2 linked regions of the Homo sapiens genome follow. The protein of the gene in region 1 interacts with the protein of each later gene in a pairwise test. Each region holds a gene or a part of one and is shown on either strand. Other genes may lie near its edges.

Region 1 (15,206 bases):
CTCTCACCCTTGACCCCCTGCTTTCAGATGCTGAGCCAGGGAGGCGGCCCTTCCAGCAGCCATGAGGGAAGGACAGGAGATGGGGCCCACCCCAGTGCCCAGCAACCCCCTGCTCCACCGCTCATTCCCCTGCTGGCCCCGGGGCTGGTCTCACCCAGTGCCAACCCGAGAGCTCCTTTTGGAACCTGCACAGCCCGCCGACCTGTTGCCACCTGCACCCACCGCTGGACCATGCAGCCTCGCCTCCTGGATGCTGTCCCAGCCTGGCCGAGGGTCCCAGGTGAAGACTGGAGGGACCCCAACAGCCACCGCCCAGGACGCTGAGGCTCCCTTGCCTGACTGTGACTTGTGCCTCTCTCCTGCCCCCGTGGGGACATGGCAGCCCAGAGCCAAGGCTGGGTGGGCAGGTGACCCAAGGAACCTTTCTGGGAACACCTTCTCGCCGGGCTGGGAACAATAAATGCAGCCATGTCTCTGCAGCTGGTGCTGACCCCATGCCACCTCTAGACCCGTGCGTACTGGTGCAGCCAGTGTGGGGGTGGGTGGCGGAGCAGGGCTCAAGCCAGCCTCGGTTCCCCATCTGCGACCATGCTTGGGTTCTCCAGCCTTGCTCCCAAGTAAGGAACCCATCTTCAGCTGCCTGGGATGAGGCCCTGCCTGTCAGCATCTCTCTTCCTAGAGAGAACTCCTATTCATCCGTCAAAGCCCCTGCCCCAGGGCCCCCTCTATGCCATCCCTTCAGCCTGGGTCTCATGGGCCCTGCCCTGGAGGATCCCCACATCACCCTCATGAATACCTCTGGCAATGATTCCAGGGAGCCCCAGAGCTCTGCTGCAGGAGGCTGGAGTTCCGTGCGGCCTGGGTCCCCATGCCGGACACTCCTCCCCCATCTGCCTCCTGTGGGACTTGGAGCCTGAGACCCCATCCCAGGCAAGGTGCTTAATCAGCTTCCCTGGGGCCTTGTTCTTCCTGCAGGGGCCTGTGTCTGGGCGGAGTCCAGCCCTGGCCTGTCATCCTGTCCCCCATGAGGTTAGCCTTGGAGAGACCATGGTGCGTGGGTACCCATGGCCTGAGGTCCCCCACAGGCAACCTGTCTGGAGCTGCCACTGCCCTGTCACGAGGAGGAGCTGCCACCAGGTGGCAGCCTTGAGCCGCCCAGTCCTCTGGCTGTCTCCTTGGTCCTAACCCTTCATGTGGGAAAGCAAGTCCAGCACAGCCCATTTGTCACTCCACTTCCTGAACCCACCGTGTCCTCACATCCACTGGGGGATGGGCAGTCCCCCAGGTTTGCATCTCACATACCTGCCGACCCTCCCTGTCTGCCGCCAGGGTTGGGAGGGGCTGTCTCCACTGGGGGCCAGGCTATCGCCCCTTCAGACCAGGGTCCCCTGTCCTGGTACTATCTGTTCCCTTGGGCATGTCCGTCTGACCAGGCCTGCCAAGACTCTGCTTACGTTTCTCCTTCCCCTTCCAGTGCCCTGGGTCCTTCTCTGCCCCAGCCTCAGCTGCCGCCTCCAGGAAGTCCTCCCTGATTGCCCACCCCAGCCTGTTCTTTAGGGGAATCCTGCAGGGAAGGTTGGGGAAGCAACCCTTAAAGTGAGGGCAGAGCCCGAGGGAGGCCCCTGAGACTGCAGGTGGGGAGGGCAGCTTGGCTCAGCCTGGCTGTGTGTGGGACTGGGGACAAGCAAGTCACACCTATGACTCGGGCTCTGCTGTTCCCCATCTGTCTGGCCGTTGCGTCTGTCTCCAAACTCCCGTTTGCATCTCTCCATCTGCCTCCTTCACTTTGTCTCTGTCCGTCTCTGTCTCCATGTCTGACCCTTTGGGACACACTTTTAACAGGCACGGAGACACCAGCCCCGGCCCCCAACCCTGTGATCTGTGCCCCCCGTCCCACAGCTCTGAGCGCTTTCACCAGCTTCAAAAGGCACATTAATTACTCTAATGAGGTCAGGAGAGACCCACGCTCTGCCATCCGGAGTCGGAACATGCCGCAGCCCCCAGCCCAGCCGCCGCCGCCCCCCGCTCGAGCAGGGAGAGGGGCTCTGCTGCCTCCGTCCCCTCTGCCTGTCGGGGCCCGTGCTGCACCCCACGTTGCTGCAGAGTAATTGGCAGCCCCCCAAGGTTAATGCACTGTTAGCCAGGGGTTCTCCTGGGCTCAGAGCCGGAGAGGGGCCTGTCAGCGAGAAATGAAAGGCCCCAGGTCCCGGCTGGTGCTCGGCTTGTGAGCGTGTGTGTGCCCGTGGGAGTGCGTGTGTGTGCGGGTGCCTGGGAGCTTGCGGGGGCGGGCAGTGGCTTCCTCCACCTCTCCCACGCAGACACGCAGACACGCAGGCACCCACAAAATACAGTCTCATAGACACACGGTAAGCAACTCGGACAGTTCCATGGATGGGACGCCCGCAGCCCCGTGGGACACGCGATCACACACATGGGTGTGACCTGCTCAGCTCCTAACCCCACGCCGGGGAGTGTCTCAGACCCATGCCCCCCACCCTTGCCCCTCGGTGTGCCCACTGGACAAGCAGCATATCAGGTCTGTGCCTCTGGGTGGGGGGGGGTGGGGGTCTCTGCTTCAGCAGCGGGCCCCGCCCAGGCTGGAGTCCAGTGGACTCACTGCGGGGCTTCTCCGCTTGTGAAATAGGGGCGGGTGGGCGCTGGGGACGTGGCCTCAAAGGCGGGATGCGTTGGGTTCCTTGCGGCGCCGGCTTGTGCCCACAGCTTGGGGCCGACATTCATCCTGGGGAGATAGAGACAGGGCTCCTCTGCCGCCCTGGTGCCGGGGTGCCCCAGGGATGTGGCCCCATGTGCCAAATCACAGTCACTCGGGTTGGCAGGCGACGGAGGGCTCTCTGCCTCTTCTGGGGGTGCTGAGACCCCTGTACCCTCGACTCCCCACCTCCAGGGATCTCACCCCCAGGTGCCCATCTCCTCTGTGGGGGGCCTGAGCCACCACTGACCCCACATTAAGGCCACTGACGTCCCCGTCCTAGGCCAGCCAGCCCCTGAGAAGCACCCAGTGCTTTGCTGTGGGACACAAAGCCACACATGGCTATTCACGTTATTTCATTAAGTTACATAAAACTGGAGGTCCAGGGCCTCAGTCACCATGGGGAGAGGTCCTCAGTCGCCATGGGGAGAGGTCCGGGTCCTCAGTCGCCGTGGGGAGAGGTCTGGGGCCTCAGTCACTGTGGTGGACAGCGATTGGTGGGGGCAGGGACATTTCCTTTGTCTTGGAAAGTTCTGGACGCTGGTGGTGTCTGGACACTGGAGAACGGGTCTGTGTTCAGGCCCCAGACCTGAAGGTGGGATGAGGGAGAGAGGAAGGAGGAGGAAGGGGAGGAGGGAGGGGACAGAGTGGGAAGGAGAAGGATGTGAATGGAGAGGAAGGATGGGAGGAGGAAGGAAGGAAGGAGGGAAGGGGAGGAGGAGGAAGGAGAGGAGGGTGCAGAGGATGGGGGAAGGAGGGGGGAGGAGGGTGTGAAGGGGAAGGAGGGAGGAGGGAGCGGAGGACTGAGAAGGGGAGGAAGGTGTAAAAGGAGAGGGAGAGAGGAAGGAAGGGAGGGGGTATTAAGGGGGAAGAGAGTGGGAAGGGGGAGGAGGGAGGGGAGGGTAGTATGAAGGGGGAAGGAAGGAGGGAGGGGAGAAGGGTGGGAAGGGGAGGAAGGAGAGAGGGAGGGAGGGGAAGGTGTGAAGGGAAGGAGGGAGGGGAGGTGGGAGGGAAGTAGGGAGGGGGAGGGAGGGGAAAGGTGTGAAGGGAAGGAGGGAGGGGAGGAGGGAGGGAGGAGGGTGTGAAGGGAGGAGGGGGAGGAGGGTGGGAGGGGAGGAGGGAGGGAGGAGGGTGTGAAGGTGTGAAGGGAGGAGGGAGGGAGGGGAGGAGGGAGGGAGGAGGGTGTGAAGGGAGGAGGGAGGGAGGAGGGTGTGAAGGGAGGAGGGAGGGAGGGGAGGAGGGAGGGAGGAGAGTGTGAAGAGAGGAGAATGGGAAGGATGGGAGCTGGGGAGGAGGGAGGAGGGTGAGCTGGGAATGGGGCTGTGTGCCTGCTCTTTTCCACCACTGGCTGCAGGGGTTGCAGGAATCTTGGGTCCATGGCTGGATGGGGGTGGGGATTTTCATGTTACCCACTGGAGAAAGGGATACATTTTTATTTTCAAGGACAGCGACCCAGCCCAGGGGAAACGCCCCTGGCCCCTGGGGCTAAGCGCAGACCCCAGCTCCGTGCTTCGCAGGTGGGGGGCGATGGACAGCGGTGGGGCTCCCGCCCTGAGTGGAGCCTGTGACCTGCCCGGGCCCCAGCGCCCCGTGACCCCTGCCGCCTGATCCTTGCCTGGCTGAGATGGGGCTTCTGAAGGCTGCCGGCACCAGGGCAGGCAGCGCATTGGGTCCAATTTATTCTGTAATGAGAAATTCTCCCCGCATATTTTTAGCTTCCTCCTGGCGTCGCGGCCTTTGAAGGCTGAGGGGCTGCGGGACGCTGATCCCAAGCCCTGTGGCCTGGCCATGTGGGCAGTGGGTGCTGGGCACGGGCTGGACAAGTCCCTTCCTGAGTCTGGGTAGACCCCAGTCCCAGCAGTGCAGAGCAGGGGGCGGGGCCAGACCCCATCAAGCCCTGTACTGGCTCCAGACCAGGGACTGAGGGCGACCCTGGATAACCCCTGACCTTGGCGGACACCTGTTCCCAGAGTGAGCCTGATTTCTGACCCTTGGCTCCACAGGAAGCTTACTCTAGAGTGACCTCCGGCCGCGGCTGCGTCCCAAAGCCGGGACAGCTCCCAGCCCCAGGAGGGAACAGGGCTTCTTGGACCCCCACAGTGGCCCCCCTGCCAGGCAGGGGTTTGCCGGGGCAGCCTCGCCCAGGGCCAGGCCTCGGAGACGCCCTGCCCTCCCCTCCCTTCCCCAGGTCCTTCCTCTAGGAGCGGCCAGCGGGCGCGGGGAGGTTGAATGGGGGACGCACCGCCTTTGTTCCCGTCCCTGCTTGGGCTCTGACCTTGAGAGAGACAAGAACAGAAGGAAAACGGAGCTTCTGCTCAAATCCGTTCAGCGGTGGCGGTGGTGGCGGCTCTCGCCTCGGTGGCCCCTGCATGCAAATGAGTGGCCCTGCCATGCCTGGGTGGAGGTGGTGCCCTTCCAGCTCCCACCTGTGCAGGTCCCAGTCCTGGTTTGAGAAGAGACCCCCTCCTCCCGACCCTGGCCCACCCCTCCTCACCCACGAGATCCCTTGAAGCAGGAGGGGGCTTCTGGTCCCAGGGTAGAAGGAAGCTTCCAGAACTCCCACCTTTGCCAGGTGGCATGCTGGGGCCGGGCACGCCAAGACCCCAGGCTCACGGCCCCTTGTCCTGTGCTTGGGTGCAGCCGCCACACTCTGCTCCGAAAGTGCTCACCTCCGGGAGTGGCCGTCCCCCTCCCTAAAAGAGCCCCCCACCAGACGGAGCCGCCCGGGAAGCTTCTCCAGCCTGTCTGGGCTACAGAGCCTTGTGTGGCTAGAACCCAAGGCCCTCACTCCAGGGGTGCTGAGAGAGCCTGTCCAGAGGGCCTGCCTCAGCCACCACCTGGGACAGGTTCACGCCCTCCACTGAAGAGACACCCGGCCAGCCCTGGGCCTTCGACCTGGGACGTCTGTAGTGGGGTCAGGGGATGAGACCTGGAGCTCAGAACAGACGGGCTGAGCTCCCTGGAGGAGAGAGAACTGAGAACCTTGTCCTGGCAGGGACGCTAGAGCACTGGGTGGGACAGACCTTTCTGGAAGAGCAAGATTTTAACAGGAAGAAAAAGTGGAAGGACTTCCCAGCAGGACCCAGCCTGAACAAAGGTCAGGTGGTGTGGCCCGCGTGGCCCGCTGGGGAATCGGGGGAGGAGGGCACGCAGGAGACACAGGACAGAGCCCACCACGTCTCAGAGCTGTGGGACGGTGGTGGGTCCGGTCCCCACCCCACCTTGCTGGGGCACAGGTTAGCTTGCCCATCTCTGGGTTCACGGTCCCTGCCAGGAGTTTGGGTAATGCCTCACACAGGGACCTTCGGGTCCAAGGGCTGTTGGTGCTTGCCCTGCAGTTCCCTCTCCTGCACTGGGCCTGGTGAATGACACTAATTCAGAGACGTACAACACGATCTGGGCATCGCCAGCAAAGTCCAGCCAGCGTTTGATGACAGCCTACCCTCCACAAGCTCAGAGTCTGGTGAGGGAGGCTGTGGCATGAATAAGGGCAAAAACAGAGGGCAGGCCAGGTGCAGTGGCTCACGCCTGTAATCCTAGCACTTTGGGAAGCCCAGGTGGGAAGATCGCCTGAGCCCAGGAGTTCAAGACCAGCGTGGCCAACATGGCCAGACACTGTCTCTATAGATTGGAAAAAAGACAAAGCAGAGGCCAGGCCCCCAGTTCCCCACCTGTGTCAGCCTACCAGGAGGAGAAATCACTCGGCGTTCCCTGAACAGATCAGACCCCGGGTCTTTGCACAAGCTGTGCCCCCGGGCAGCGGCCCTCCCCTGCCTGCAGGATTCGTGCGTGGAGACTGATTTGCTGTCGGCCGGGGCTTCACTCTGGGCTTCTTGGATCCCATCCCCAGCTGCTCACACTCCACATCGGTCCACCTACTATGCTCCCGGCACCCTTAGGGCTGAGGTGTAGGGACTTACTCCATCCCCAGGGAACAGCGTGGGTCCGGAGAGGCGACTCCCAGGAGGGCCCCAGGGAGGTCGCAGCCCGAGCAGCTTTGGACTTTGGCCAGCGCCCCTCTGAAACTCTGCCCCGGCCCCCGCAGGGAGACTGGAGTTGGCCGAGCCCGATTTGGGACGCGTGCGTCGGGGTTGGTGAGGCTGCGGATAGCGCTGGAACCGGGCAGGTGAGAGGCCCGGGACCCAGGGCCGGGCCGGGTGGAGCGCGTGGGGGCGCGGGAGGCAGGGTGCGCCCCCGCCCCTCGGAGACCCCAGGCCGGGCCACGCGGATGCCGGCGGGGGGCGCGCAGAATCGGGGTCGCTGGGGGCAGGCCCCGGGGGACGAGCCTGAGACGGGGTGGGCCGGGGCAGGGGGCGGGCGCAGGCTGGAGACCCCCGCCCAGTCCCCGCGCGGCCGGGGCACGGCGGGAGGGGGCGCCCGCGGCCCTCCCGACGCTCGGGCGGGACAAAGGCCGGAGCCCGGGCCCCTCCCCGGCGGGTGCGGCGGCGGCGGCCCGCGCTCCGACAGTCCGCGCGGCCGGGTCCTGCGCCCGGGGCGACCCCGGCGCCCCGCCCCGCCGCCGCCTGACTTCTCGGCGCCCGAGGTCGCGCGCGCGGAGGCGGGGGCGGCCCGGGATCTCCAAGCGCCGCCGCGCCCTCCTCCCGCCCGCCCTCCGCCCGCCCGCTCGGCGGCGGCGGCGGCGGCGGAGGAGGCGGAGAAGGCTGGCAGGCGGCGGCCGGGAGAGCGAGCGCGGCGGCCGGACCGGGGCCATGGCGCCCGCGCAGCGCCCGCTGCTCCCGCTGCTGCTCCTGCTGTTACCGCTGCCGCCGCCGCCCTTCGCGCGCGCCGAGGACGCCGCCCGCGCCAACTCGGACCGCTACGCCGTCTACTGGAACCGCAGCAACCCCAGGTGAGCGCGGCCGCGCGCGGGGGGCGCCCGGGGACCCCCCAACGCCCCCCAAGCCGCGCCCGGCCTCGCGCCCCCGGAGCTCCGGGCGCCCCCCACGCGCGCGCCGCCGCCGGGATGCGGGCGCCCGGTTCCCGCGGGAGCCCCCCAGGGAGCTCCGGCCCCCCGGAGTTTGGGGGACTCGCCCTTTTCGCGCCTGCCTTCCCCGGGGCGCCCCATTGCCCTACGGACTGTGGGGACTCGCGCCCCACATCCCCCAGAGCGCCGACGTCTCCTGGAGTTTGGGGAACCCCTCTGGTACCCTCCGATGCCGGGTAGCCCCTGAGTTGCCTGCCTGGACTTGGGGGGACCCCTGATCCACCCGCTTCTCTGGGGAGCCCCCTCGGTTTCGCATTTGGTGGGGATCCCCGGGGACCTTGGCACCGGAGGTGGGGGACTGTGGCCCTCGAGGGATCTCTGGGTTCGTCCTGCCCGCAGGTCCCCAGATGAACTTGGGGAAGTTGGAGTGTCCCTCCCTCAGGACCCAGCATCTGCTTCACTCCAGGGGGCCAAGGGCCCAGCTTTGAAAGGAGACTGAGGGGCCGGGGAGCTGGGGGTCAGCCCCGGGAGGGGCAGTGGGATGGAGTCCTCTCTTGTCCTCTGGGCGCTGACCAGGAAACTGAGGTGCAGAGGGGATGAGGAGCTGGCTCAAGGTCATGCAAGGGGGGGACTTGGGGGCAGGACCCAGGTGGCCCAGTGCCCTGCCTGCCACGCCCGGCCGAGATGCCGCACCCGCCTGCTGCAGGCCCCCTTGTTTTGAACCAGGTCCGGGCCAGGCACAACGTGGGGGACAGGAGAAGCCCCCGTTGGTCAGAGCAAAAAAAGTTTGCCGGGGCCTGGCCATGGCCTGGACGTGGGTAGAACCCTCTGAACCATCCCAGGGTCTCCAAGACAGGAGCAGGCTGCAGCTTCCCTGGGGGTCCCGTGGGAGCCGGGGCTTTGGGGGTCCTGGGGCTCGGGAGGGAGTCAGCCCCAGCACTCAGGGTGTCACCGTCTTCCTAAGGCACACGGAGCTGCACATCGGGGGCTGAGGCGGCCCCCCCCCACTCTTCTGCTACTGGTCACTTTCTCTCCGTTTTCCAGCCGCTTCCTGTGCCGACCGAGCCGCCCTCTGGAGCCCGCCACCCCTCCTTGTCCCCTCTGTCTCCTGCTGTCCTCGGTCCCCGGGAGGAAAGTTGCATGAAGGGGTCTCTTTGAGGCGGGCTCGGGGACAAGGGCGGCCCGTGTTCCGCCGTGGGGGTGGGGAACACGCACAGGCCCACCCCCCACCCTGGTCAACGGCCTCGGGTCGGGCCCTGGGGGCTGAGGGCAGGGACCCCGGGCCGCTGGGGGACGGCTGGCCCACCTCAGAGCGGGTCCCCGAGCCGCCCGCTGTGCTGGTCACATGTGGGTTTGATTAAGGCTGTCGCTGGCCGTGCGGGGAGTCCAGCGGGCAGCGCTTCCCCGGCCCAAGTTTTTGGTTTCAGCTGCGGAATCTCCCGTCCCCAGCGTGGCCTGTCCTTTGTTCTAGCAAACGCCAAACACACGAGGACCCGGCAACCGGGGGAGGAAGGTGGTCACCAGGGCCGTCCTGCTGCCCCACCTGCCACAGGGCTGTGGGCTGCGGGCCGGACCCCCGGCCAGGGGAAGGAAGTGGCCTCCCCAGTGCCTGGCTTGGCCCAGCCACCTCCTGTTGCTCCGGGTCTGACCTGGTTGCCCAGCTCAAACCGCTGCCTGAGGGAACGGCCTTGCTGGTCCGCAGAGCCGACCTGGGCAGCACCGAGGCTGCCTCCTCCTTCCTCTCCTGCCTGCGGTATCCAGGGTTGCTGGGGACGGAGCCGACACCCTGCAGTGGGGCCCAGGGCTGGGTGAGCACCTTCCCGGGAAGCCGGGATCCAGCCAGAATCAGGGCTTTGTCGCGGACATCAGGGGTCTCTGCAGTTCTCAGATTTGGTGTCCAGGGGCACCTGCCCGGGACCTGTGCCTGAGTGGCGGGGGTGTCAGGCACAGCAGGGGGTGGTGCTGGGCCTCCGTATCCAAGGGGACCCTGTGGAGGGGACATCGGCTTGGGGAGAGGAGTGGCGTCAGCCGGCAGGCCTAAGGTGTGAGGCTGGGCTGGCCGGGGAGGGATGATGGGGTCGGGCAGGTGTGTGGGGGATGCGGGGACCCCAAGTCTTTGAGAGGGGCATACAGAAAGGCACTGGAGACGGGGACAGCCGCGATGGGGGGCAGACAGCAGCGTGGGCACCAGGGGACCGTGTGCTCGATGGGGCCTGCAGGCCCGGGCAGTGCCGCAGCGTCGCCGGCCGCCCCTTCCGCCCATTGGCCTGGCACCTGTGCCCAGGCGATGACTGTGTGGTCTGTCTCCACATCACACCCTCTCTGCTGTGAGAGGCGATGCCTGCACCCAGGGGACCCCGCACCCACCTCCTTGGGCCGCTATAAGGTGGGGCCCCGTTGGGTGGTCTGGCTGGCCGGCCCCGCCACTCCCACCGGTGACTGCACAGCGTCCGTCCAACCCACTCCCCAACCTGGGCTGGGTACCCCTGAGCTGGCCGCCAGGAGTCTCTGGGCCTGTTCCCAGCCGACCCGCATCGGGCTGGGGCGTCCAGGGCTTGGACCTGGCCGGCTGCCCTCACCTGTCCTGTTGGACCTGGCCGGCTGCCCTCACCTGTCCTGGCCACAACACCGCGTGTGCATTCCCACGGCTGCTCATGTGTGTTTGCGTGCAGCGGTGGGGAAGGGTGGCGTGCAGGTGTGCCTGGAGTCGCATCCGGCTGCAGGTTACATGTGTCTGTGTGTGGCAGGAGGCTGCGTGAATCCACAGGGCACAGCTCTGGCGTGTTTGCACATGTGTCTGCGTGATTGCATATGAGGTGCATGTGTGTGCATGAGTGTGTCTGTGCGTGGCACCCGCGTTTGCATGTGCGTGCCCTTGCACGGGATGTCTGCAGTGTCCGAGGTCCCTGTGCGTGTCTGCCTGTGGCATGCATGCGTTTTGTCTGTGCGTGGAGTGCAGGTGTGTGTGCGTGTCTGCGTGTGGGGTGCATGTAAGTGTGTCTCCCTGGGGGCAGTGCTGGCTGGCTGAGGGCCTGCAATGTGGGGGCAGTGGTGGCCCCAGCACGGTCCACAATGGCAACCCCGCTGTTGGCCCTCCCTCTCCTCCTCCCCTGGGGACGGGACCAGGGCCCGTGTGCAGACGGCCATCAAGCCTCAGAGCAGGGTGGACGCAGGGGCCTGTGGTCCCCGGGAGTCCCCACCTTCTGATTGGAAATCTGCAGCCTTGGGGGCACTGGGTGGGCGCTTGCCCACACTGGGCATCTCTGGGCTTCGGCCACCCTCCCGGGGTTCCCCACGGACCCAGTGGCCCTCGGGTGTGGGCAGCAGCCGGGTTCCCCTCAAACACTGGATGGAAAATGGTGACCTATGCAAGGGCTCACTCCCCGAGGGAGGAGCCGTCCCCCAGCAGAGGGCAGAGGTGAACGGGGTGTCTCGCTCCCCGTGGCTCCGCTGGCGTCCCTCGGCCTCTCGGGGAGCCGGCTTTGAAGGGGGTGATGCCGTGTTCTGCTGCATAAGGGTTTTTTGTTTTGTTTGAGAGAAGCTGGTCCACTCGGCATTGGGGGCGCTAGGAGAGCCGGGCGGTGGGCCTGGGGGATTCGGGGCCTGAGGGTGGGGTCCTGGAGGCCGTGGGGTACCTGGACTCAGACTCGGGAGTCTGGGAGACCTGGGCATGACGTCAGGCAGGTGGCTTAGCAGCCTGGAACCCCCAGGCCTGCTCTGCGAAGTGGGGGTGACGGAGCCCTGCGGTGGGTGCGGCTCGGCCGATAGGGCCTGGTGTGGATGGGCAAAGGCCTGAGGGTGGTCCCAGGGGTTAGTGTCCCCTCCCCAGAAGGGAAACCGAGGCAGCTCCTGTGGTGGGGAGGATGCTTCTGCCGAGGCACCATGGTCTCTGTGTCTCACGGTCTCTTTGGGTCTCTGTCTTCCCCATCTCTGGGCATCCTGGGGTGCCATGGGTGGCCCAGGCCTTCCGCCTCCACTGCAGGCCTCCCTGGGCGGCCTCAGTTTGCAGAGAAGGGAACAGAGGTTCCGTGGCGGGGGGCCGTGAACGCAGTGGGATTTGACCTTCCCCCGTCTCTGGGCTGACGTCTCCGCAGGTCTGCAGGGGACTGGCCCTACGTGGGTCCCTCGGGGTCACGGCGGAGGCAGTGGGTTGTGCATTCATGGGGGTCCGGGTGGTAGCGTTTCTGTGGAGCCGGTGGTCTCCTTGTCATCCATGAGGGTCCTGCCCCGGTGGCCGTGTGTTCCCCGGGACACGGCTTCTCTCCTCCCCAGGAACCGGGATGCAGCCAGGCCTTGCCCCTCAGTCCTGTGTGTGGGACCAGCCTCTCCTGCAGATGGGTCCTCAGGGAGAGCTGGGCTTTGTACCTTGCTGGGGGAAGGGCTGAGCTGCTCCCGTCCCTGTGCCCACCGTCCCGTCGCCCCAGACACGCGGCTGGAGCCTGCGGAGGAGCAGACGAGCCGGCGGGGTTTTTGCTTTAACCTCAAGCAGGCGTTTGAACTCTGTGGCCGAGTCGGTCCTGGTGGGGGGCTCGTGCCACACCTGCTCCCAGACCAGGCTGGTGTGGGGTCTGGCCGAGAGACTCAGCGGCGTGTCCCCCCAGCTCTGTGCGCCCCTTGTCCACCTGCCCTGTGGGTCAGGGGCCCCCAATTCAGGGACAGAGCAGCCGAGGCCCTGAAAGACGGTGACTCACCCAAGGCCACCCGGAAGTTGGGCAGAGTCCAGGGTGTCCCACCTGGGGCCGGCCCGGGGGAAGCCAGGGACAGCCCTGGGAGGGGCAGGAAGGTGGGTGGCCGACGGCAGCTGCACTCTGTACCAGGGCCACCCACGCCCACGGTGACGGAAGCCCAGGTGGGGCTGACCCTGCCCGGCCCATCTTTTTCCTATTTTGCTTCATTTCTAGGGCCCTGCCTCAGTTTACCCTCCTGCACCACAAGGCCATACTTGTCCTTTCTTGGGCAGACCTTGCACCATCCCGGGGACTGATTTCCCTTCAGGTCCCACCCAGGTCCTGAGCAGGAGGAAAAGCTCCAGTCCTCAGTCAGGGGGGACATCTCTTCCGTCCCTGGAAAAGCCAGGTGTGGGTGCTGTCACCCCAGCAGGTCTTGCTGGGGGTGGCAGGAGGGGACGGGCGGCCTCAGCCCCACGCTGGGCTTCAGGACCCGGGCTGCCTGCTCATCCGGCCAGCCTGGGCCTCCCCGGGAGCTTCTCCACCCTGGAAGAGAGATGCAGACGGGTGCAGGCGTCCACCTGCCCACCCACGGGGTCCTGGCTGCCGGCCACACCACTGCCTCAGTTTCCAGTCCTGGAAGGCAGCCCAGCCCACCCCCACCCCAGTTTTGGGTGAGATTCCTAATTAGTCGCTTAGCTATTAGCGTCTAATAACTTGACAATTGCCCGATTGGAGCTAATTAGCTCCAGGCCGCTTGCTGGAAGCTGGTGACAGCCAGGAGGCCCGGGTGGGCAGGAGGGGAGCCCTGCTGGGTGAGCCTCTGCCTGGGGCCTGGAGGGCTGCCTGGAGGCGTGGACTTTGGCACCCGCAGGTTGAGTGAGTGTGGGGGGAAGGTGTGGCCCGGCAGAGGGAACCCGGAGGAGTAAAAACTGCCACCGCTGCTCTGTCTGGGAAAAATCCCAAATCAGTCATTAACCCCTTAGTGAGAATTTCAGTCTCTCTGCCGCTCCGGGGAGGATTTGCATATCGAGGCTTCATCACTAATGGAGGAAGCGAAGGCTTTGTCTGCCTCTCCCCAGGTGCGGTTTTGGGGTGGGGGCCCCCTCCCCCCTGCAGGCGCCACCCTCAACAGGGGCAACGCGCCCACCTCGGGCTTGCCCGCCAACTTGGAACCGGGAATGCCAACACAGCAAGGCCGCTGCTATTTTAGAGACGCAAAGGGAAAAATACGGCCCCACTCCGGCAGGCAGAGCCGGGGGTGGGGGTTCCCCTGGGACCTGCCCTCCAACACACACACCTGTGGGCTGCTCCCCACAACTCTGGCATTGCAAAGTCCTCGCCTCTTGACCTTTTTAATTCACTCATTATTGAGCACCACTGTATGCAGGGCCTGTGTAGGGCCCTGGGGAGGGGACAGAGGAGGCCAACATCAGGATCCGGGATTCAGACAGCAAACCCTGTAAAGAGCAGATGTGATATGGGGCGGGGCACAGGGAACAGCACTGCAGGCAGTGGGAACAGCAGCTGCAGAGGCCCTTGGTGGGAACAGGGACAGCCGGGAGGCTGGTGTGGCTGGAAGGGAGGAGTCTTGGAGAGAGGAGGATGAGGAGGGCGCAGTGGATGGGCCACACAGGCCTGGAGGGGTGTGGATTTTATTCTGAGGATCAGGAATGGATGGAGGGCTCTGAGCCGCCGCCAACGTGTTACAGGGTCTGTTTTGCAGAAGAGCGAGGCTTGGGATATGGGGAGGCTGGGCCCCGGCAGACCCTCACCGCAGCCTGGAGGGGCCCGGGCACCTGGCCGCTCAGCCACACAGAAGCCTCGGTCTCTGACATTTTACCGAAGGCAGAACAGGAGGAGAGAACACAGTGGTGTCAGACGTGGGGGAAGGAGGCACCATTGGGGAACCAAGAGGCCAGAGGGGGACCTACAGGGCTGGTGCTGTGGGCACTTTCAGAGGCTGCTCTGTCTCAAGAAGTGTCCTGCTAGGAGCCAGGTTCTTTTTTTGGGTTGAATGTGGCTCCCTGGGGATCACTGCCGGGACAGGAGGGGAAACTGAGGCCAGAGGGCAGTGGGGAGCCCAGACGCCCCTGTGGTCCCTCCACGGAGGCCTCCCCTGCAGGGTGACCTGGGTGTGGGCAGTCCCAGGCGGGAGCTGGGCCTTGGCTACCATCGACCGCCTGATCAATGGGCTTTCACTTGGGCTGGGCAGGAACGAAAATGACTTTTCAAAAAGGCTGGAGCAGCTTCTGCATCGATCGTGCCCAAGGGGCCAGCGGGTCAATGAGATGCCTGTGCCCGGCCGGCCAATGGGGCAGCCTGAGGGGTGGGCTGAGGCCGAGCCCATCTCCATCTGAGCCTGTATGGGGGCTGCCCCCGTGTCTGTGCGGACGCACCCCGAGTGTCCAACAGCCGGGAGGACCATCCCCTTGCACGGAGGGGAAAGGGAGCCTCTGAGAGGAGGCCGGACCTCGAGACCCAAGGGTTCAAATCCAGACGCAAGCCCAGAACTGCAAGATTCCGAAGCCCCGGAAGGGCCCCTGCCCTCCAGGCCTGGTGCCCGGGGGAGATTTCCCTGCAACACGCCCTCCCATGTCCCCTGTGCTGGGCTCACAGGGGTGATGAAGGAGGCCTGGGAAGCTCTCTGTCCCTGGACGAATCCAACCAGGTAGGGAAGGGCTGGAGGGTGACTTCACCGCCTCCGCCGCCCTGCCTTGAAATTCTTTGCTCTGGAGATCTTCATGCCGGATCCCTAGTGGGGAAACTGAGGCGCAAGTGAGCACACCTGTCTGCCCCTTCTCACCCCTGGAGACCCAGGAACCCCCGGCCCCGCCTGGCGTGGCATCTCAGGGTGGCGGGGGGCCGGGCTGATGCCATCTGATAATCCCACCACCCTCTCTCT
Region 2 (15,354 bases), on another chromosome or scaffold:
ATCCAGAATATATAAAGAACTAAAACTCAGCAACAAAAAGGCAACCCAATTAAAAACTGGGCAAAGGATTGAACAAACTTTCAATATATTCAAAGGAAGATATACAAATAATTATGTGAAAAGATGTAGTTTTGATTTGCATTTTCCTAATGACATTATCACTCATCATTAGGGAAACACAAATCAAAACCACAATGAGACACCACTTCATACTTACTAGGATGGTTATAATTTTTATTATTTTATTTTTAGAGATGGGGTCTCACTATATTGCTCTCACTGGCCTCAAATACCTAGGCTCAAGTGATCCTCCCACCTCAGCCTCCCTGGTAGCTGGGACTACAGACACAGACCATCGCACTGGGCTTATAATCACTTTTTAAAACTGAAAATGAAAGGTGTTGGCAAAAATGTGGAGAAACTGGAATGCTTGTATATTGCTAGTGGAACGTAAAATGGTACAGATGCTTCAGAGAACATTTTAGCACTGTGGAAGAGTTTGGTGGTTCCTCAACAAATTAAACACAGAATACCACATGATTCAGGAATACTACTCCTTGATATACTCAAAAGAACTGAAAATGGGTACTCAGATCCTTGTATACCAATGTTCACCGCAGCATTATTCACAATTGCCAAAAGGCGGGAAAAAAACAAGTTTCCATCAACAGATACATGGATAAACAAAATGTGTGTGGGAGGAAGTGCACGTGTACAGACAAACACACACACACACACACAATAAAACATAAATCAGCCATGAAAAGAAACAAAGTCTTGATATACGCTAAAACATGGATGAACTTGAAAACATTATAAGTTAAAATAAGCCAGACACAAAAGGGCAAATATTTTAGGATTCTACTTCTTTGAAATATCAAGAATACACAAATTCATAGAGACAAAAAGTAGATTAGAGGTTACCAGGGGCTGGGAGGAATGGGGAGTTATTGCTTAATGGTTCCGAGTTTCTGTCTGGGGTGATGAAAAACTTTTGGAAAAGTGGTGAAGGTGGTGCAGCACTGTGAATATAATTAATGCCATTGAATTTACACTTAAAAACTGGTATAATGGCAAATAGTATGTGATATATATTTTACCACAATGTTTTAAAAATTGACTTTGTTAATAAAATGAAAAAAAAAAGGTCACTGTAAACTACTAATCACTACTTTTATTTTGTATTCAAGGTCACAATCAACCAGAAGAGGGTTCTTTTGCTCTGTCAAATAAATATATTTAAAAGCTAGCAAACGTCAGAGAAGAGTTTTATCAGGCCTATAAAAGAGATGAGGGAAATTAATAGTTATATACAGCTACACAGAGTTAACATATTGCAAGGGAAACAACTATATTCAAAGGCTTCATTTCTAATACTTGACATTTCAAATTTTGAGAACATTAAAATTATTGTCAAACAAAACTCAGACCACATTAGCAATGTTTATAAAAGGGAGCAATTTAATCATTATATTACAGAGTGCTTTAAGAAGTTTTTAAACGTGTAAAAGAAAAAAAAAAAGCTTAGTGCATTACGGTCTTTACATTGCTTCTTTTTTAAAAAAGTTAACAGTAGTATGAAAAAAGCCACCCACAAAGCCAGCTGTCTGAGTGAGGAAATCAGCTACATTGCAGCATTTTGGAATTACTAATAAAGCTATAGTTAAAAAATAAAAAGTTTATAAAAATGAAAGCAGCATGCATATTCAAGGCTTTTTCATAACATTTTCAATGGCTGAAAAACATTTAACCAAGAGCTTAATATTTATTATCCATTAAATTAGAGAAAATAAACTGGCTAAGCCTACATCTGGTCATTCAGAAAAACATGTTAAAATCCAAAGCTAATTAAACTGAACATTTCTTCTACGAAGAAAGCGCATTTTGAAAAATGGTCCTATGGTCACAAAAGAAAGGGTTCTTCCCAATATGAATGAACAGCACCAGTCTTTACAAAGTTTGTAAATTAGTATGAACTTTCAGTCTCCTGATACGGCAAGAGTTAACAGTTAACACTCCCATGATTCATAAGTGAAAAGCTAACTTTTAACTCATTATGATCAGTTCAGAATTTTTTCTCTATTCACTGAAACTGTTATAAAATTTCACTGAAAGATAACTCTTAAAAATTCTGATCTGACACCTGTATAAACATTTCTGATTTCCACGATTGTAAGAAAACACTAAGTATACATTTACTACGTGATTCTTTTTCACATTTTTGGTGCAGTATTTATTTCAAAGCTTCACCCTATCCAAATTACCATGTCAGTTTCTTTTCCTTCTTCAGAATTAATTTCCTGCAGTTTAATAAAAAGCAAATCAGCTTCTAATGGAACAAGTAACAGTAGAAACAGTGGTATTCATGGATGTGTTTAATGAAGGATCCAATTATTAAGGGCCAGTGAAACCATAAAATCTTATTGTTTCAACATATATAAATAGGCTGTTTTTACATTTGAAATTGTATAAGCCCATGCACAACTTTTAATCTTAGTGCAGGGTCTGATAAATAAGACATAGTAATAAATCAGGGTTTTTTTTTTTTTTTTTTTTTTACCCATTTCTAACAATTTTTACTGTAAAATTTTTGGTCAAAGTTCTAAGCTTAATCACATCTCAAAGAATAGAGGCAATATATAGCCCATCTTACTAGACATACAGTATTAAACTGGACTGAATATGAGGACAAGCTCTAGTGGTCATTAAACCCCCTCAGAAAGTCTAAGATTCAGAATGTCTCCATCATATTAGAAGAAAAATGTACTGTATTAAAATTTAAATTGCATTTTTACAAGTTGTTTTTTAATTAGTGTTCTATTTACATTGCAGAACTTCCACCAACTGCAGTAGTTTAACTTTGGCACAACATTAAGTTCCATTTCTTTTGGGTATTGGATCCTGCTTTTTGAGTGTGTATGCCCCAAAACGTTTTCAATGTCATCAAAGATTGGGCAAATTCACAGTAAATCAGACATCTTGAGTTGAAGAATTGATTCTCCTTCAACGTTTTAGGCAGCTAAAAAAGAAAAACATCATAAAAAACTGAAAATTTAAAGAAAACCATATTTTAATTTTTACTACTTTTAGAAATAAAAGTGAAAATACATCTTTTGTATTCTCTTGAGATTACCTGCCACATATGTCTTCCATAATACACTAGGCTTTGTGTGCAACTCATCTATGTATATGTTCTTCATATGCTAGATTTGCTTATAAACATTTATCATCTTTATGTAATAATTTATTTCAAACTGTATGAGCAGGGAGTATATATTTCATTGTCAGTATCTGTAATAAGCAGACTATGAAATCTAAAGACTTGTACTTTTTTCTATTTCTATACAAGGTGCAAAAGATATATATGTACCTCACTTCCTGTAATAACTATTTTGGGAAGGTTTTGGTAACTTTTTTGGTAAATTGAACAATATTTAAATGAAGAAATAACTATTTAGAGAAGGCTATGGTGAATCCTCTTATAAGTGAAAAATTATTTTACTCAGCCAAGGATAACTTGATGTTTCAGAAATTTAGACTTTTGTGTATTTAAAAAGGCATGCTTCTATGCTATCACAAAAGTATATAATATGGTTTGGCTCTGTGTCCCCATCCAAATCTTACCTTGAATTGTAATTATTAAGGGACAGTGATACCACAAAATCTTATTGTTTCAACATATGTAAATAGGCTGTTTTTACATTTGAAATTGTATAAGCCCATACATAACTTTTAATCAGGGAGTGTCGGGGGAGGGAGCCTGGTGGGAGGTGACTGAATCATGGGGGTGGACTTCCCCTCTGGCTGTTCTCATGATAGTGAGTGAGTTCTCAGGAGATCTGGTTGTTTGAAAGTTGTGTGGAACATCCCCTTTCGCTCTCTCTCCTGTTCGGTCATGGTGAGATGTGCTTGCTTCCCCTTCTTCCCCTTCGCCTTCTGCCATGACTGTAAGTTTCTTGGGGCCTCCCAGTCATGCTTCTTGTTAAGCCGGCAAAACTGTGAGTCAACTAAACCTCTTTTCTTCATAAATTACCCAGTCTCAGGTCGTTCTTTATAGCAGTGTGAAAATGGACTAATACAGTGCATGTATAGCATACATCATACAGTCTTTTGAAAACTGTAGTTTTAGGATGAATTTTCTGACCAGAATTAGTATCCATTACAGTGTTAATATATAACATAAGAATTATCTATACAAAATTAAAGGTCAAACTAAACTGTACAGAAAAATTCACATTATTTTTGGAAGACTGCAACTCCCCAAAAAAATCATTGCAGAGGTTACAACAACAACATTCACTGCAGCAACAAATTTGTTGATTTAATCTTGGCTGAGTGCACATTCTTGTGTTTAGCAATAAAAAAAATGCCTGTTAAAAATATTTTATGTATCTGGGTCAGAAGAAAGCCTGCTCTGAAGATTTCTGACATTAGGAAATGGAGGGCTGCACTTCAGGATAAAGCTGTATGAAACTGTTTAACTTCTTATAACCTAAAATGATTACATTATACCCTATAACCTGGAATGATATTTATACTGCTTATTAAAACAGGTACATTTTTAGTTTCATCTGTTATCCCTTAAAAAATATTAACAAGGAGAAAACCTGAAAAAGGATTGCCAAGCAGTAAGAATAGTGCCTGGTACATATTAAGCTCTCTATAAATAATTGTTAAAATAAATAAAACCAGAGAGAAGATGTAAGGGAATTAAGGAAAAACTGCACAGAATAACAGAGCATAAAAGTAGGGGATGGGATACTCATGCAAAAAGCCAAGGAAATAAGTAAGCATGCTCACGTATAAAATAATAATGAGGGTCTACGTCTCATTTCCTTCCTTACTGTTTGAACACAGCAGTCATTTCTGATAGCAAGATGCTATTTGGACTACTGACAGACATACACAAACATTTCATGACAACTGCATTGTTTTCAAAACAGTGTACTTTTACCCCGGAACACTCCAAAACAAAGAATAGCAAAGAATAAAACTATGTTATTAAATTCCAGAAGTATTAAGAATTCAATTCCTAACTCCAAAGCAGGTATCTGATTTGCAACTACAGTTCAACTTTAATTAATCCAATTTATAAAAGAACTAAGATTTAAGGAACATGCCAAAACCTTTCAAATTTAAGCCATATTTATTTGCATTTTTAAGACTACAGAGATATACTTTAAATCAAATACAATGTTAGTGCTGGTAGCAGGTTTGTTTTATACCAAAGAATGAAAAGATATTTTAAGCAATTGGGTTTATATCAAATCTGTTATTTGCCTTTTGATCTCTAAAACAGAAATAATTTATATCACAGTTTTCAAAGACAGATGCCGCCTAAGCAAACATGAATTTATATATGGCCTAAAACAGACCTTTGACTTTTAACAGAAAAAGATATTGAGTAATTTTATAAATTACTAAAAAGATACTGAGTAATTTCATAAATACATAAAGCATTTTAAACTCTAGTTAAAAGTCTAGTAAAGTTTTGGGAGCAATGCAATGAAGATGAAAAGATACCCATTTTCACCTAGTTTCCTAAAACTGCACAATCCTCAACCCTGTGGTAAGTCTTTCCTTTGGTGTACTTTTCCCCTTCTTTTTAGTTTTCATTTTTGAATTATTTCCTTAAATAGGCAAAAAATGAAGCTTTAGTGAAGGGGGCATTGCAATAAAATACATTTTAGTTATCTTTAGTATTTGTTTGTGAATCCCCTCAACCTGCCTGCCAGTCTCCCTTCATAGAGATTGGGTAACTTTCCTTCAAAACAAAGTAAAAAAAACCCAATTCATATGAAAAATAATAATTAAGACATTAAACTCTACATAATAATAATAAAACTACACATGATAATCATTTATCTCTTAGCTATACTAGTGGTACCTAGTCTTATTAGGGAAAAGAAAAACTACTTCAGAAAATATCAAAAATGAAGATGACTGATACAACAAGGTGACTGTTCAAAATGTATGTGGTTGATGAACATATACGCAGATTAAAAATTTTCTTAACTTACATTTCAGTCATCTGATTTAGACAGCTTCCGTTTCACATGTCGTGGAGGTTCCCAAGTGTCACTATCATCTGTTTCTTCTTCATCCTCTTCCTGGTCATCAATAACTTCATCTTCCTCCTCATTTTCCTCAAATAATTCTATACCTAATTCTGATCTTCTCTGTCTTTCTGCAAACCACTCTCTGACCTGCTCATAGCCCATATGTGATTTGTTAACAAGTTCATCAAGGTCTTGCTCATTAAGAAACTTGTGCTTCAGGTAATAATCCTTAAGTATTGCAGTTCCAGTTTTAAATTTTATGAGTGATGGTCCCCTGTCCCAGTTGTTAATTCTTTTGCTTCCTCTAGGCCGCCCACGCGGTCTTCCTCTTCCCCGTCCTTTGGGTCTCCCTCTCCCTCTTTTCCTAAGGGAAGACAGACCATTCATACTACTTGAATTGGCGCTCTGATAGTAGTAGTACCATTTCAAGTTTCCATTCTTCCAAGCATAACGGGTGTCCCCAAACCAACTAACTATGTCTGTTCTAGCAAGCCCGCTTTCTTTGGCCAACTTGTCATACTCTTCTGGTGATGGCCACTGTGTCCGGACAAATGCACTCTTAAGCATGTGCAGCTGCTCAGGTGTTTTTTTACATATCTTGCCTGTACTCCCTGACTTAGGTGCACCAGATTCATCTGCAGGAGAAGTTTCTCCAGCTTCTTCTTTGGAACTACCTGCATTACTTTCATCTATTTCCATTTTCTCTTCCTTTAAAGCTTTTGATTTCTTCTTCTCTGTAAACCAAGCATCGATTTCTCTTCTGGTAAGTTTGGTTTGTGCCCTTAACCTATTTAATTCTTCATCTGTAAGTACAGAGCTGTTGAGAAAACTTGCCTGAAGGACACGAAGCTGCTCTGCAGTTTTCTCTTTAAACTTTTGGGGAGTAAAGTCAGGAAAAGGATTCCAGGATTGCTTAGGCTGTGCAGTACCAACAGTTGGGGATTCCGTGGTTTCATCACTGGAGTCTATAATAATGGTGGTAGAGGAATCATTGTTGAGATGTAAGCACTGATTACTCTTTGAATTTCTCTGGTTGTACCTTGTGTCACTAAACCATTTTTTAATCTCTCCTTTCGTCAGGCCTGTTATTTTCATAAGTCTGATAATTTCTGAATCATGGGGAAACTGATTTTTAAGGTAGCTAACTTTTAATTCTGCCAGTTGCTCTTTTGTCTTTTTTGCCCGAATGCCAAATGAATCAGGGTTTACCAATGCAGTTTCATGTTTGACACTTTGAGAAGTTGGAACTGCTGCTGTTGCTGGCTTTGTTTCTGCAGTAGGCTGAGCAGCAGGTACCTGACTTTTCTGTATATTATTTTGACTTGGAACGCCTGCCACTGTCAAGGCTATAGGTGCTGTAACTGGCAAGGTGTTTGTTCCAGCCACTTGAGTAAGGACCAGACCAGGCTGACCAACTATTTGGCATGTCTGTAAAATAGATGGTAAACCATTACTCCCTGTGGAAATGTGTGTAGGAATAACAGTTATGGTCTGAGGTACAGTATGCACTGTTCCATTGAATTGTTTCCTTCTTGCCTCCTCTACTTCCTCGGGAGTCCAACTAACACCATGTTTTAAACGTTGGGCTGAAAACCATATCTTGATCTGTTCCTCTGTATATTTTGCTTGAGCAGAAAGAACTGTAATTTCTGACATTGTTGGGTAAGGGAACTTGTTGTAGGTGTTAAGTAAAAGGGGATTGTTATCCAATGCAGCATTGTAGGTGGGAATGCTATTAACAGGGATTAAGACTTTGGGAATCAAATTAGAATTCTGCTGAGCAGATACAGCAGTTATCACCTGTGCCAATCCAGGAAGAACTGCTGCTGGTGTCACTACCGTGCTGGCAGTACTTGGATGTATTCTGTTTACAATGGAAGTACTTGTATTAGATTCAGAAGCTGAAGAACTTGGATTTTCTACAATTTCTTCACGGTCTGGTTTGATTTCATTCTCTTTCTCTTCAGGAACGTCCTCAACTGAGTTATGATGAACTGCAATCCGTTTATTTTCCACTTTATTTTTCATCATTTTCATGATAGGAGTTTTACTGATAGATATTCCCGAAGAAGAAACTTCTGTAGATTCTGCTTGCTCTGCATTCTCCTCTTTAACAAAACTACCATCAAAAGTCAGATCATTTATTGTTTGTTCAAAGATTGTCTGGTTATTACGTTTCACCATAGTCAACTTAAAATTCTCTTCTCCTGGGTGATATTTCAGATTATGCTCAGAAAGTGCATCATACCTTTTGGTAAGAAAATTGCATTCGACACAAACATAGGATGAATTTAGCACTACATTGGGATGTTCCGAATCCACATGAAAAGTAAACATATTTAGATCTGGAGTTTGAAAAGTACAATATTTACATTCATATCCACCTTCAACTTTTTTATTTTGCTGATTGTCTGAATCCACAGATTCATGAACCTCTTCATCACTTGAGATACTCTCTGCTCTGGTGTTTTCTACAGGTGTAAGCACAGGAGGACCTTCATCCAAATCTGATATCAACTCAAGGTCTGGATCTTGTTCACTGGCAAGGACCATGCAAGGTGTTGTTGATTTTCGCCTGCTTGCCATTCTGATGTTATGAGGAAAAGCTCAGTGGTGATTAAAAAGCATCGAGGCTTAAAACTGTTCAGTGTTCTTCATTTGAAAACAATGGCTTTTGGTTCTTCAAGTCCATTTTTGTGCTCAACAAGTCTCATTAGCAGCTTTCTCATGGTGCAATCAAGTAAAGAGCTTATTGTTGGCAGATAAAATACTGCTGAATTTCTGAAATTTTTGAAGCACAACTCCAATCACCTACATTAAAATAAATTTTAAAATGTTTTAAAATGAGTAACTATGATCTTTTAAACAAATTATAGTTATAGTTCACTTATATGAAGTGGCTGGATAGCTCAGTTACAAAGATCTAGAATAAGATAAGAATCAGAAAAAAATGTCCTCTAAAGATCAAAATAAATCTCTCCAGGCCAACTCATTGAATGTTAAGTACTTTACCTTGGGTCAGACACAAGCTTATTCATTTAAATTTTTTAGCCAGCTATATATTAGAAGACAAGGGGGAAAGGGCCTGCTTTGGCAAGCACACTATTATTAATGTGAAATGGCAATGTTAACAAGGAGGAACTTTAACACTATAAAAAGCATTCACAGATACTAAAATATTATGGCCATTAAGTGTGTAAGAAATTCAGCCTGGCCAACATGGTGAAACTCCGTCTCTACTAAAAACACAAAAATTAGCCAGGCGTGGTGGCAGGTGCCTGTAGTCCCAGCTTCTCCAGAGGCTGAGGTAGGAGAATCGCTTGAACCCAGGAGGCAGAGATTGCTGTAAGCCAAGATCATGCCACTACATTCCAACCTGGGCAACAGAGTGAGACTCCATCTCAAAAAAAAAAAAAAGACAAGAAATTTAATCCATTAGTTCATTAGTTATGTCCTCTTCTTCCTACTGGTCTATCTCATCAGCCAAAAGCATGCTTCAAGTATGGCAAAAATAGCAAAGATGGAGGATGAATGATCAAAGTTTCAGAAACATTATTATTATTATTATTATTTTTTGAGACAGAGTCTCACTCTGCCACCCAGGCTGGAGTGCAGTGGCGCAATCTTGGCTCACTGTGACCTCTACCTCCTGGGTTCAAATGATTCTCTTACCTTAGCCTCCTGAGTAGCTGGGATTACAGGCGCTTGCCACCACGCCTGGCTAATTTTTGTAGTTTTAGTAGAGATGGGGTTTCACCACGTTGGCCAGGCTGGACTCGAACTCCTGACCTCAGGTGATCTGTCCGCTTTGGCCTCCAAAAGTGCTGGGATTACAGGCATGAGCCACCGTGCCTGGCCTACCAGAAACATTATTCTTAGCACTTGCCACAATGCTACCAAAAGTTATAAAGCAGATCTAATCACATCAGTCTCCTGACACAGGTTCCTAATGTTGAAGGAATAAAGTTCAAACTCCTTGTGGGACATATAATCCCTTTCACAACCTAGTCTAACCTCACTTTCCTTCCTCCTGTTTCCTTATGCTTTAGGTATACCAGAAATGGCTGCCATTCCACAGACATTCAATGCACTTTCAGACCCTTACTCAGGCCCTTCCTTAGGTTAGGACACTTGATGTGTTGATCTGTGTGCCCTCTAGGACAGCAGTCCTCAACCTTTTTGGCACCAGGGACTGGTCTCATGGAAGACCATTTTTCCACATACCGCGGTGCGAGGGGATGAGATGGTTTTGGGATGAAACTCTTCCACCTCAGATCTGGCATTAGATTCTCACAGGGAGTGCGCAACCTAGAGCCCTCGCATGCACAGTCACAATAGGGTTGTGCTCCTATGAGAATCTAATGCTGCTGCTCATCTAACAGAAGGCAGAGTTCAGGTGGTAATGCTTGCTTGCCTACCTCTCACCTTCTGCTGTGCGGCCCAGTTCCTAACAGGTCATGGATTGGTACTGGTCCATGGCACAGGGGTTGGGGACCCCTACTAGAGATCACCTTCTCCCTTTCATTTGGTCCCATTTCCTCCCGTTTATTTTCTAGTCTAGTACTTACCATACTGTACATGGCAGAGTAATGTTACATTTCTGTCCCTGCACCACCATCCATATCTGTGGTCTCCTTACTCTAGATATTGTGTCTCATTTTTAATAACAGCTTGCTATAATTTGGATGTTTGATCCCTTCAAATCTCATGTTGAAATTCGATCCCCAATCTTGGAGGCAGAGCCTAATAGGAGGTGTCTGGGTCATGGGGTCAGATCCCTCATCAACAGTTTGGTGCTGTCCATGTGGTAATGAGTGAGTTCTCGCTCTACCAGTTCCTGCAGGAGCTGGTTGTTAGGAAGAGCCTGGCACCTCCCCACTGTCTCTCTTGCTTCCTTTCTTGCCATGTGATCTCTGCCCACATGCATTCCCCATCATCTTCTGTCATGAGTGGAAGCTGCCTGAGGCCATCACCAGCAGCAGATGCTGGAGCCATGCTTCTTGTACAGTCTGCAGAACTGTGAACCAAAGAAACCCTTTATCTTTCTAAATTACCTAGCTCTGGGTATTCCTTTATAGGAACACAAAGAGACTGAGACACAGCTTTTTTGAGATAAAACAAAGTCCCCCAAACTCTGGATTGAGCCAAGGAACTTTGTATCTTCAACCTAATACTCTCCCAGCTGAGCTATTTTGGCTGACATCTCATTAATGTTGCATTCCCAAGTGCATATAAGAAGCCTGAATTTAGGGAGGTAATCACTCAATGTTTATTAAATTGACTAGAATGAAGAGGAAAATAGTCCTACAAAACTCAACAGGACCTGCAGGAGGCATCACCATAGAGAACAGTATCTGAAATTCACAATAATAACTTTAAATAATCAAGAAAAAATGAATTAGGATCATAAAATATATTTAAATAAATTTTATACCTAAAATTTTTAAAATAAAAAGTTTTATGCTAAGTAAAGTTTGTGTTTCTGAAGTCTAATCCAACTGAAAACGAATAAAATGGGTAAGTGATTTCATTTATTCTTCACCACAAATTAGAGCTATTTTTAATTTACTGGCATCCCAGCTGAATGGAGAAGAAGAGAGTTTGCTTCAAAAATTATTAAGCAAAACCAGGTCCCTATGAGACAATACATCTAGTCAGTAAATGGAGAGACATTTTTAGGAAAGAGAGCAGTCCTAAGAGAGAATATCCTGACTTTGAAGGACGGTAAAATCCTCCTCACTGGAATTATTCAAATACAGACTACACATCCAAGTAGCAGAAGGAAAATTGGACTAAATGTCCTTTGTTCCCTAATTTCCCATATTACCAAATAAAGAGCATCAGTTTAAAAATAATAGTGGTATTAATAATCCAGATCCCTACTCTCAAAGATGTCATTCTTTTTTTCTTTAAAACACTCTTGATTTCTAAGATATTATAAAGAAATCACTGATATTTACAACTATTTCTTAACCAAATGTTATAAACTAAGCCAATGTTATCTTTTAATCAAATAGGGGTTGCCATTTTTTTTTTCAAGTATCAACACAGATGTTTGATCATTTTTTGTCATTAGAAACAGGGAATTCCTTAAATGGCTCCAAATAAGTGGTCCAGACATGGTGGTACACATCTGTAATCCAGCTATTCAGGAAGCTAAGGCAGGAAGATTCCCTGAGTCTACGAGTTCAAGACTGGGCAACATGGTAAGATACTGTTTCTAAAAAAAATAGTAAGTGGAAGAGTAATAAATGAGCAGCACTCATATTTTGAACAGTAAAGGGAATTGTTGAAAGGCAGAGGAGTAACCTATTTTGTGACTGTTACTTTCCTGGAATCTGAGAGAGACTATATTTAATTGGGGTATAATAATAGTTGGAAGGCAAGAGGGTTTCTTTCTGAAACTTTTTCCTCAAAGTGGTGGTTTTCAAACTTTTTGTTTTAAGCAGGGGAGCCCTTTCATCAAACAAAATGCTATGAGAAATCCCAGGTCAAAACAGATAAAAGAGAAGCCATCGGCCAGGCACAGTGGCTCACGCCTTTAATCCCAGCACTTTGGGAGGCCGAGGCCAGTGGATCACAAGGTCAGGAGATCAACCATCCTAGCCAACAGTGAAACCCCGTCTCTACTAAAAATACAAAAGTTAGCCGTACAGGTGTGGTGGCGAGCGCCTGTAATCCCAGCTACTCGGAAGGCTGAGGCAGAATAATCACTTGAACTCGGGAGGTGGAGGTTGCAGTGAGCCAAGATCAAGCCACTGCACTCCAGCCTGGGTGACAGAGCGAGACTCTGTCTCAAAAAAAGAAAAAAAGAAAGAAAAGAAAAAAAGAAGAGCTATCTGGTTGGAGGAGGCAGAGGCTAAACTACTCTCTGACCAAATTCCACGAATCTTACAATCCCCACTTCCACCTTTCAGGGGTTCTGAGATGTGTTTAAAAGCCTTTTGCTTAAAACTTAAACATATCGGCTGGGTGCGCCTGTAATCCTAGCACTTTGGGAGGCTGAGAAGGATGGATCACTTGAGGTCGGGAGTTTGAGACCAGGCTGGCCAACATGGTGAAATCCCGTCTCTACTAAAAATATAAAAGTTAGCCGGGCGTGGTGGCGTGCACCTGTAATCCCGCTACTCGGAAGGCTGAGGCAGGAGAATCACTTGAACTCGGGAGGTGGAGGTTGCAGTGAGCCGAGATCAAACCACTGCACTCCAGCCTGGGCAACAGAGCAACACTCCATCTCAAAAAAAAAACAAAAAACAAAAAAAACCCCACATATATATATAGAGAGAGATCTCAAGACAATATATCAGTTTCATCAAAAATCCTCCTCTCATTGAGCCATTGCTCAGCCATGAAATTTGAAAACTCATCTTGAGAGGACAGGTGCAGTGGCTCATGCCTGTAACCCCAGCACTTTGGGAAGCTGGCAGGGGCGCGGTGCATCACTTGAGGTCAGGAGTTCGAGACCAGCCTGGCCAACATGGTGAAACCCCATCTCTACTAAAAATACAAAAATTAGCTGGGCATGGTGGTGGGCGCCTGTAATCCCAGCTACTCAGGAGGCTGAGGCAGGAGAATCACTTGAATCCGGGAGGTGGAGGATGCAGTGAGCCAAGATCGCACCACTGCATTCCAGCCTGGGTGACAGAGAGAGACTCTGTCTCAAAAAAAAGACTATTTGCTTGCTATAATCCACTGTCAGGTCCCCATGATTTTGCTAACAAAAGTAAGGTCAGTGTATTATTTAACATATTTCTAAAAAGAGACTGAGAAGTCCCAAAAGAGTTTCAAGATTTGGTCCAAAAGCTCAATTCTGCATAATGTGTATAGTCTAAAAATAGACCAAAGGGCAAACAAAGGTATCCTCGGAATTATTATTATAAAGTCATAAGTTTGGAGGAAACAAGGATCTTAATCTTAGTACAACTGCCCCATTTTTATGGAAGAAGAATCCCAGGCCCAGAGTAATTAATTCATAAAGTCATTGTGAATAGGGTAAAGCCACAGGTTTTGCAGTCACCTCTGTCAATTAGTAGTTAGGTGCCTGGAAGAGCTATTCAATTCAACCTCAATTTTCTCAAGATTCTTCAATTCAACAAATTTGTTGAATGTCAACCACATGAAAGGCAATAATGATGCAATGGTGACCAAGACAGGCAGTCTCTGGTTTTTCAGGTACCAGCAGTGAAGCAAGGAAAGCAAGCAGTAAACAATTACTTAGAATAACTATGATCAGTGCAGTAAGAAAGATATCAGTACACTGCAGGAGGCTTCTAGAAAAGAAGCAGAGAAGGCTTCCCTGGGGGAAAAAGAAATAGTAGTATCCACATCAGAGGAAGTAAAAATGCTTCCTTCACTTACTTTGATACAAAACAGGTGCCTAATTGATGCTATTTTCAGTCCCTGAAAAATTCTTTCCAGAAAAAAATAACATTTTTTAATATTATAAATTCTCTCACTTTTTTTTAGCAACTTAATCAGCTGAAAATGCACAAAAATTGGATGAAAAAGTAAAAGTAAAAATACAGAATAAGAATTTCTAGGATGTCGTTCCTATTCATCTCCCTTTGTCATTAAAGTGCAATGGGACTGGGACAGGAAAATTGCTGTATAGAAATCACTATTAGCTGAAGGCATCACATCCTCTATTTGAAGGTCAACTAAAAATAGGGCTCAAAATCAATTTGGGGAAGCTTGCACTATTTACCTATAAAAAGAGGTTAGAGGTCAGTTGCACAACTCAGTAGCTAGGTGACTCTGCAATTAAAACACAATTAAAATTAAGTTGGCCAATAAAAAAAAGTATGCTGTCAATGCATCCAGCACTGTAAATGTAATTACTTTTCAAAACTGCTTTCAGTTAACTTTTCAGTACGGGAAGTGTTTTTAGAAAACTGATCAAATTAATTTAATTGCTATACTGCCATTAAAATTGATAATCTTAAGAGTAATTAAGGAATATGGAAAAACTACCCATTTACTATTAAATTTTTTAAAACTCAGAAAATTTGCATATAATTATAATAACTGTGAGGAAATATGTATGCATGTGAACAAAGATGAAATGAGAGTATGTAAAAAAATGAAAATTTCACGAGATTATGGGTGACATTTTTATGTGTGATATTCACAAGTTTTCTTTTTCTTTTGCTTTGTTTTTTTCCTTTTTAGGGAGAACAGAGTCCCGTTACGTTGCCCAGGCTGGTCTTGAACTCTTGGGCTCAAGTAATCTTCCCACCTCTGCCTCCCTGTGTTGGGATTACAGGCATGAGCTATCCTGCCTAGCCTACAAATTTTC

Evidence for each region.
Region 2: the proteins of EFNA2 (region 1) and ZHX1 interact in a two-hybrid assay, tested with the Homo sapiens proteins (one study listed by BioGRID).

What each region holds. Positions count from the first base shown.
Region 1 is NC_000019.10:1,278,750-1,293,955, forward strand, and holds the start of EFNA2 (ephrin-A2 precursor), read left to right. Parts: upstream 1-7,123; 5' UTR 7,124-7,419; coding exon 7,420-7,559; intron 7,560-15,206. Other genes in the region: protein FAM174C precursor, read left to right, coding at 28-28. UniProt on the Homo sapiens protein: Cell surface GPI-bound ligand for Eph receptors, a family of receptor tyrosine kinases which are crucial for migration, repulsion and adhesion during neuronal, vascular and epithelial development.
Region 2 is NC_000008.11:123,247,302-123,262,655, forward strand, and holds the end of ZHX1 (zinc fingers and homeoboxes protein 1), read right to left. Parts: intron 8,871-15,354; 5' UTR 8,646-8,870; coding exon 6,024-8,645; 3' UTR 6,021-6,023; intron 3,020-6,020; 3' UTR 1,155-3,019; downstream 1-1,154. UniProt on the Homo sapiens protein: Acts as a transcriptional repressor. Increases DNMT3B-mediated repressive transcriptional activity when DNMT3B is tethered to DNA. May link molecule between DNMT3B and other co-repressor proteins.